2 linked regions of the Homo sapiens genome follow. Changing the gene in region 1 together with any one later gene gives a genetic interaction. Each region holds a gene or a part of one and is shown in the gene's direction. Other genes may lie near its edges. The genes, in order: SLC16A8 and FABP4.

Evidence for each region.
Region 2: changes in SLC16A8 (region 1) and FABP4 together harm fitness more than expected from each alone (negative genetic interaction), as found in Homo sapiens cells (one large-scale study listed by BioGRID).

What each region holds. Positions count from the first base shown.
Region 1 is NC_000022.11:38,077,431-38,081,295, reverse strand, and holds the end of SLC16A8 (monocarboxylate transporter 3), read left to right. Parts: coding exon 1-456; intron 457-928; exon of another isoform or gene 929-1,683; intron 1,684-2,348; exon of another isoform or gene 2,349-2,442; intron 2,443-2,562; exon of another isoform or gene 2,563-2,591; coding exon 2,592-2,908; 3' UTR 2,909-3,159; downstream 3,160-3,865.
Region 2 is NC_000008.11:81,480,877-81,484,793, reverse strand, and holds the start of FABP4 (fatty acid-binding protein, adipocyte), read left to right. Parts: upstream 1-1,560; 5' UTR 1,561-1,626; coding exon 1,627-1,699; intron 1,700-3,917.

The sequences.
Region 1 (3,865 bases):
GCACCGACCGCGCCTTCGCCGTGTACGCCGTCACCAAGTTCCTGATGGCGCTCGGGCTCTTCGTCCCCGCCATCCTGCTGGTGAACTACGCCAAGGACGCGGGCGTGCCCGACACCGACGCCGCCTTCCTGCTGTCCATCGTGGGCTTCGTGGACATCGTGGCGCGCCCGGCGTGCGGCGCCCTGGCGGGCCTGGCGCGTCTGCGGCCGCACGTCCCGTATCTGTTCAGCCTGGCCCTGCTGGCCAATGGGCTCACAGACCTGAGCAGCGCACGCGCGCGCTCCTACGGCGCCCTCGTCGCCTTCTGCGTCGCCTTCGGCCTCTCCTACGGCATGGTGGGCGCGCTGCAGTTCGAGGTGCTCATGGCGGCTGTGGGCGCGCCCCGCTTCCCCAGTGCGCTGGGCCTGGTGTTGCTCGTGGAGGCCGCGGCTGTGCTCATCGGACCGCCCTCTGCCGGTGCGCCCCGAAGGAAGAGGGGGTGGCGAGCCTAGTGCCCCTTAGACCCAGGGAAGCTCCATCCCCCTGTCTCAGATGGAACTTCCAGGGATGAGGGGAAGGGGCAGTCGGGTGGGTGGACTCCCCTTCACGGCCAGTTAGTCCCTCCTCCAAGCCGGACCGCCCGCTCTGGGTGAGGACAGAAAAGCCCAGGAAGGTGCAGGGAAGAAAGCAACACTGGTAGCTGGCCAGATCTGCCATCCCAAGCAGTTGGCACAAGGCCATCTGGAGCGCAGGTGCTTATTCTCATTTTGCAGATGAGGAAACTGAGGCACAAAGCCTTAGCGCAAGTTGCAGCCCCAGAATGAGAGCCTCAGTGTACCTGCTGCTAAATGCCCACGCCTTTAGAATGGTGCATCTAGAATGGTGACTGGAATGGGGACAGTATCTTTGGGAAACTGGTGTTGGGGCCAGAAACAGAGTGGGGGTGCTCAGCGGGCAGATGGGGAGAAGCACTGGTGTCTTTCACTGTGCAGATGGCCTGCTGGCACTTGTCACCGTCACCCTTAGGAAGTCATCGTCATGAGGGTGGTCAGGGAAGGCTTCCTGGAATATCCCCCAGGTGAAGGCACAGCATGGATGGGCAGGGCTTGTTGGGGGGGAACAGCGTCCTTATGCAAGCAAGGCAGGAACCAAAATTGGAAAGGTGGGAGTGGGGGACATGAGGGTTTTCCTGGGTTGTCAAGTTATCTTGAAACAGCAAGGGAGCCTGCCTTTGAGTCCCAGAGGCTAGAGGGCTGTGAGATGGTGCAGTAACCAGGGAGGACACCTTGCGGGGGCCGCAGGCTGCACTGAGATGGGGTGAGCTGCTCGTCCTTCCTTCAGGGCTGGGCTAATCGAGTGCCCTCACTGAGCTCTGTCATCCCACCTGACCCAGTGAGAACGGCAAAGTCCCTGAGCCAGTGTGTGGGCAGGCCACAAAACCAGCCTGCCCAGGCCTCAAGGAACCGTCTTCCATTTCTTGTGTGAATCTGGATGGATCTGATGGGCAGAGGAGGTGCATGGGGTGAGGAGAATGACCTAGAGAGAGGGTGGAGCACACAGACAAACCACACTTTAGGGGGAAATACTTGCAATTAAGAGATTTTCCTGGTCGGGTGTAGTGGCTCATGCATGTAATCCCAGCGCTTTGGGGGGCTGAGGCCAGAAGTCTGAAACCAGCCGGGGCAACATGGCAAAACCCTGTCTCTACCAAAACAAAACAAAACAAAATTAGCTAGGTGTGGTGGCGTGCACCTCTGGTTCCAGCTACTCAGGAGGCTGAAGTGGGAGGATGGCTTGAGCCCAGGAGGTGGAGGTTGCAGTGAGCCAAGATGGCACCACTACATTCCAGCCTGGGCCAATGGAGTGAGACCCTGTCTCAAAAGAATAAGAAAATTCCTGAAGCCAGGTGCAGTGGTTCACACCTGTAATCCCAGCACTTTGAGAGGCCAAGTCGGGAGGATCCCTTGAGCTCAGGAGTTCAGGACCAGCCTGGGCAACACAGCAAGACCCCATCCCTAAAAAAAACATAATAAAAGAGAGACTTTCCTGAGTTTGAAAGTAGTATCTACAAGGGATAGAAGCCTTGAGAAATAGAGAAGGAAATGAGTTACTGGCCCACAAGCCCCACCTGTGCCGATGATGGCTTGGTCTGGGATGCTCATGGGCCTCCTGGGACAGAGGGGTGGGAGGACTAAGCCAAGCCCCTGAGGACCAGGGCATTTACATGGCAACAGCAAGAGGTGGAGGCCCCCAGGAGGGCAGAGCTAAGCCCAGGGCCCCCTCCCCGCTCCCACCCCAGATACCCCACTGCCAAGCAAGTCACAGGACACTTGTGGGGCTTGAATCAGAGGGTGGAGGGGACGCCTCACCAGAAGCCACATATCACTTAAGCAATTGAGGTCCAGGGACAGCAAGTGACATTTTTAAGGTTTCAAATGGCAGAATCCACATGAGGTTTTACATCTGTAAAACAGGAATAAAGAGTGGGCATGTGTGTGTCACCCAGGAGCCTCACCAAGTCAGTGGCACCACCCTTGACCTGAGAGTGCAGGAGAGTGAGGGGAGGACCCCACAGGACCTTACCTCTCCCTCCTCTTCCTCCTCCTCCCCAGGCCGCCTGGTGGATGTGTTGAAGAACTATGAGATCATCTTCTACCTGGCCGGCTCTGAGGTGGCCCTGGCTGGGGTCTTCATGGCTGTCGCCACCAACTGCTGCCTGCGTTGTGCTAAAGCTGCCCCGTCAGGCCCAGGCACTGAGGGCGGAGCCAGTGACACTGAGGACGCTGAGGCTGAAGGGGACTCTGAGCCCCTGCCTGTTGTTGCAGAGGAACCCGGCAACCTGGAGGCCCTGGAGGTGCTCAGCGCCCGGGGCGAGCCCACAGAACCAGAAATAGAGGCGAGGCCGAGGCTGGCTGCCGAGTCTGTATAACTCAGGGTGCTCTGGGTGGGGTGGCCCAGTGACTTGGGAACACAGCTTCTTGTCTCAGAGAGCCTGGTACGCTGGGAGGCTGGTCTGGGGTGGTCACTCCCGGGGTCCACGTCTGGGCTCCAGTTGATCCCCTGGGTGTCTGGGAACTGCCTCCCTCATCTGTGCCCCAAGTTCCGCCAGGCCCTGCCCCATCGCCAGTGAAGCTGCTATGGAGCAACAGGAAACTGGTGATAAAGCTCAGCTGAACGACAGAAGGTTCTATTCCTCCGCCCAGGCTCCGGCTGCCACCTGAGTTGGGGGTCAGGGTGGTGGGAGGGAGTCTGGGAGGTCTCTCTCCAGGCCCCCTAAGCAGGCTTCTAGGTGGGCAGTGTTGGGAGGAAGCGTCAGAGATGGATGAAGAGACCCATCGTTCCCAGGTGTAGAGACACAAGGGGCTGGGCGGGCACAGGGCTCAGGGGCACAGGGCTGGGTGGGCACAGTGCCTGGCTCCTGCCCAGCCCCACTGCTCAGAGCTGTCTGCTGAAGGCCCCCTCGCTGGCATCTGCCTTTTCCCGTGGAGGGAACGAGGGGTTGGCAGCAACTAGGGTTCAAGGTTGGGGTCTGCCTGCAGGCGGGGGGCCCGAGCGGTCTGAGAAGACTCACAGTTCCCAGGGTCAGGGTCGGTTTGAATCCCAGCCCCGCTGACTTCCTTGCTCACTGGAGGCTGAGCATACGACTCCGTCCCCTGGGGTCCTGGGGAGGGTGGGACCAGGCGCTCAGTAACACCATGGGCCCTGCTGCCTTCCACGAGGTGGCCATGTCCCCTCACCTTCCCAGAGGGCATCTCTCCCACTAGAGGATAAACTTGGGTGTCCAGGGCCAGGGGCTTTTGCTGTGGACACTGTGCTGGCAGCCAGGTCATCTGCTGATCCCAGCACCTGCCTTCTCCCCACGGAGCGTCCCACGATCTCCCTCACA
Region 2 (3,917 bases), on another chromosome or scaffold:
AGAAATTACCAATTGAGTACAATATACACTATTTGGGTGATGATTACACTAAAAGTCCAGACTTTATTACAACTCAATATACATATGTAACAAAAATGCACATGTAGTCCGAAATCTATAGAAACAAAAATTTTAAAAAACCAAATTGCAGTGTTAGAATACACATAGTATGTATTCAAATTCAATCATTTAAAAACCTGTAGGAAGCAAATTAATTTAAAACATTATCAAAAACATCCCTCTATTAAGATTTGTCACTTTTATTTACTTTCCATCTGAACAGTCTTATTCAATGGGAAACAGGTGGATCACTAATAGCAAGCCTACCTGGATGGTACATCACCACAGTCTGTGTATCTATGCAACAGTCCAGAGTAGATGAGCGTTATTACTGTGCCATTAACAAATGCAAAACCTAACTTTATCAGGCTTTCATAGCAACTTGCTTTCCTACAGAAAATCCTGTTGCTTACAGAATTTCCTGCCACAAACATTTTTGGGAAGCCCTCAGGACACTTACACAGGCTTGTGAATCAATCACATGCTCAGCAGGTACTGTTCAGTGGGATACACAGTGTAGCGATGCATCACTCTGAAATATTTTAGTTTCTTTTTTTCCCCTAAATCTGGGTATGTTCGTGGGAATTTGCAGCACATGTGAACAACTTCTGTCATTCTTGCATGAGGCAAAGGGAATTGAAAACCACGATTACTTTAGAAAACTAGTTTCACAGATTGGTCACTGTATAAAAGAAGGATATTGGTTTTGGTAGCTTGTGACCACACACCATTTCTGATCTGAATAAATTCAGAACTTATAATACAGTTCAGAAATTGAATGCAGTTTCTCAATATGAGGAAAGTATTTTAGAATAAGGCCTATTTTTCAAAGGATCTGTGGAAATCAATGCTATGCTCTCATTTAGGAGATGGAAAGAGTGAGGTTAAATTATCATTTCGATTAAATCTACAGTCCAGATTACTGGTGGATGAATTGAATGTACTTTTTTATTCATATAAAACATTTGAAATCAGAAATCTGGAGTACTTTTAAATCCCATTATTTATTTTGTTTTAATCGCCAGGTAATTCCTGAGACAGGAGTGTCCCGAAGAGCCTTTGCAATTATGTAAGAATCTCCGAGGCAGTTCTTATGTTCCTCAATTCAAAAGAACCACATAACTGCAATTTAAATAACACCCCACACACACACACAAAATAAGGTCGAAGTTTATCTCAAAATAATTTCCCCTCTCTACACTGGGATAAATATGTATAGGAATAATAGGGGGAAATTCAGTGCACTGAGCATTAAGCTGTCAAAACAGGAATGTTTAAAATATCCTGTTAGTGGTTTAAAAATAATTTGTACTCTAAGTCCAGTGACTATTTGCCAGGGAGAACCAAAGTTGAGAAATTTCTATTAAAAACATGACTCAGAGAAAAAAATGCAGAGGCCGGTAATGAAGGAAATGATTGGATCTCATTCCCAATTGGTCATTCCTAAGATCACATGTTCTGAGCATCTTTAAAAGGAAGTTATCTGGACTCAAGAGGGTCACAGCACCCTCCTGAAAACTGCAGCTTCCTTCTCACCTTGAAGAATAATCCTAGAAAACTCACAAAATGTGTGATGCTTTTGTAGGTACCTGGAAACTTGTCTCCAGTGAAAACTTTGATGATTATATGAAAGAAGTAGGTAAGGAAATGCGTTGTGGAATGACTGGATTTATAATATTTTCTTTTGGGAAAAAGAGTTTACAGCTGTGTTTATAGCAATGTCTGGAAGCCCTGGCCAGAAATGAAAAATGCTGCTTTCTATAGAGAGGCTGCACACATAGCAAGTGATAATCATTTGTTTCTAGAGAAATTCTGAACCAAAGCTACAACTAATGTTTCCTAAAGGTGTACCAATATAAAAAGGTGTCTAAATGGAATGTTTATTGTCTTTAGAAATGATAAGATTTGACTTTATTTGAAAAACTTGGGTATCCTTGGTTTACTTAGCTCTTTGCCTGTTTCTCTTTCATCCCCTTTTGCATGTAAATTAAGCAATAACTTGGAAAAAAGTTAGTATGCAATAATTTTCATTTCAAACTGAAAGCACTCTAGTTCCCTTAATGCAAGGTTCTTTTTCAGTAACCGTATGTTAGCCAATTATTTTCTTGTCTCAATGTTAATCTATTAAAATATGTGGTTGTTTTATGATAGACAAAAATTTTAATTTCAGAAAATATGTTTCTTAAATGGCTTAAATACTTCCTTTGACTAGAAATGACATAGTATGCCATAGAATTATCAACCAATTTAAAAGGAGAATGTTACGCATATAACATACCTCTTCTTTGATAGTAGAGGTTTTTAATTTTTTAGACGCTGTTAACTGTCAGCATGTCATTGGATGAATGTCTCTCAGATAACTATGGAGGTAAATCAGAAAAGACAACTTCTCACTCAGGCAGCTTCTACTTTGAAAACCTTTCTCCCTCAACCCCATGCATGACAGTCCAATAAAGTCAGAACTGGGGTTAGCAAACTGGGGAGGAATTTTATGCAATCTTAGGGTTTAGAATGTAATCATTAAATCGCAAAACACTTAACCCTCCTGTAAATTATACAGTATATATTTTTTTGCTTGTCTGTAACTATGTTTCTTGTTTTTAGATGATAGGGAAATTGGTGACTTCAGCATGAGAGAGACTTTCTAGAATAAACTAGAGTGATTCAATAAACTAATTAATATGCACTGATGCAGAAAAGCCAGGATTTGGGGCCATTTAACTATTTATTTTTAGAAAAATGTTATACTTTTAATATTTATATTTTCTAATAATACTGTGTTTTTAAATTATAAAGGGCTGATTATAATTAAAGTCAATAAAACACCTTCTGCATGAAATTAGCTGCTGTAATTGAGGATGAGTGGGCAGGTATTGTCTTCATCATCAAATAAAAGCAAAATCAAGCAAATGGAGACTGGTTTTTCCCAAGGTCAGTCATTCTAGAATCACACTCAGTTTTGCCTGCATTCACGAAGTGGACTCACTTCATACATTTAATGTTATATTTTGTAACTGAGCCAGGACATGAAGACACACCTGTGGCCATTTTTCAGACAGACAGCCAAATCGGAGCCTCAGCATTACTTATTTTGCGCCATATATCTCTCCCAGTTCTTCCCAATTTCTAACCTTTGGTTGCCTTTAGTCAAAGAAAGAGCTTAGATTTACATGCACATGTTTAAAAAATTCAGCAAATCTATGACTGCCATAAACTCTGCATGACATACACAGTGTCAGCAAGTTACTGCTATGTTAGGCTGTAAATTATTCATTCCATACCTTGCACAAGAAAATATATTCCCCTTTTTAAGAAAGAAAAGTTCACAACTTAGGTGACTGGAAATCAAAGTATTGGCTTCTAACCTATTTTAAACTAAGAAATAGTGATTTATTAAATGTTAAAGTTTTCACAATTTGATGACTAGTCCCTTTTAAATATCCCCTATAAATTATTAGCAATGATATCACCATTCTAAAATGTTATAAATGTAGGAAACATTTTGCCTTTTGTAGAAATTCATGAAAATCTTCATTTCATGGTGGAGTAATTTGAGAAAGAAGCACAGAAAAGTAGACTTGGCAACAAATGCTATGAAATGTGACTTTTGTATACTCAAAACAGACGAACCTTTAACTAAATAACTCTACATTAACCCCCAAAATTCTGTTGAAAATTCTGTCTTTGTGCCTTCTTAAATGTAATATTGAGTATCTAAGATGGAATGGTCAAGTAGCCTCAAGTATTTTATTAAGAGAGAAAAATAACAGTGGCTAACATTTTAAATATATATCTTCCCAACCACTTAACCTTTATACATATTTTTGTTGAAAATAAACAATGGGTCTCCTGAGAAG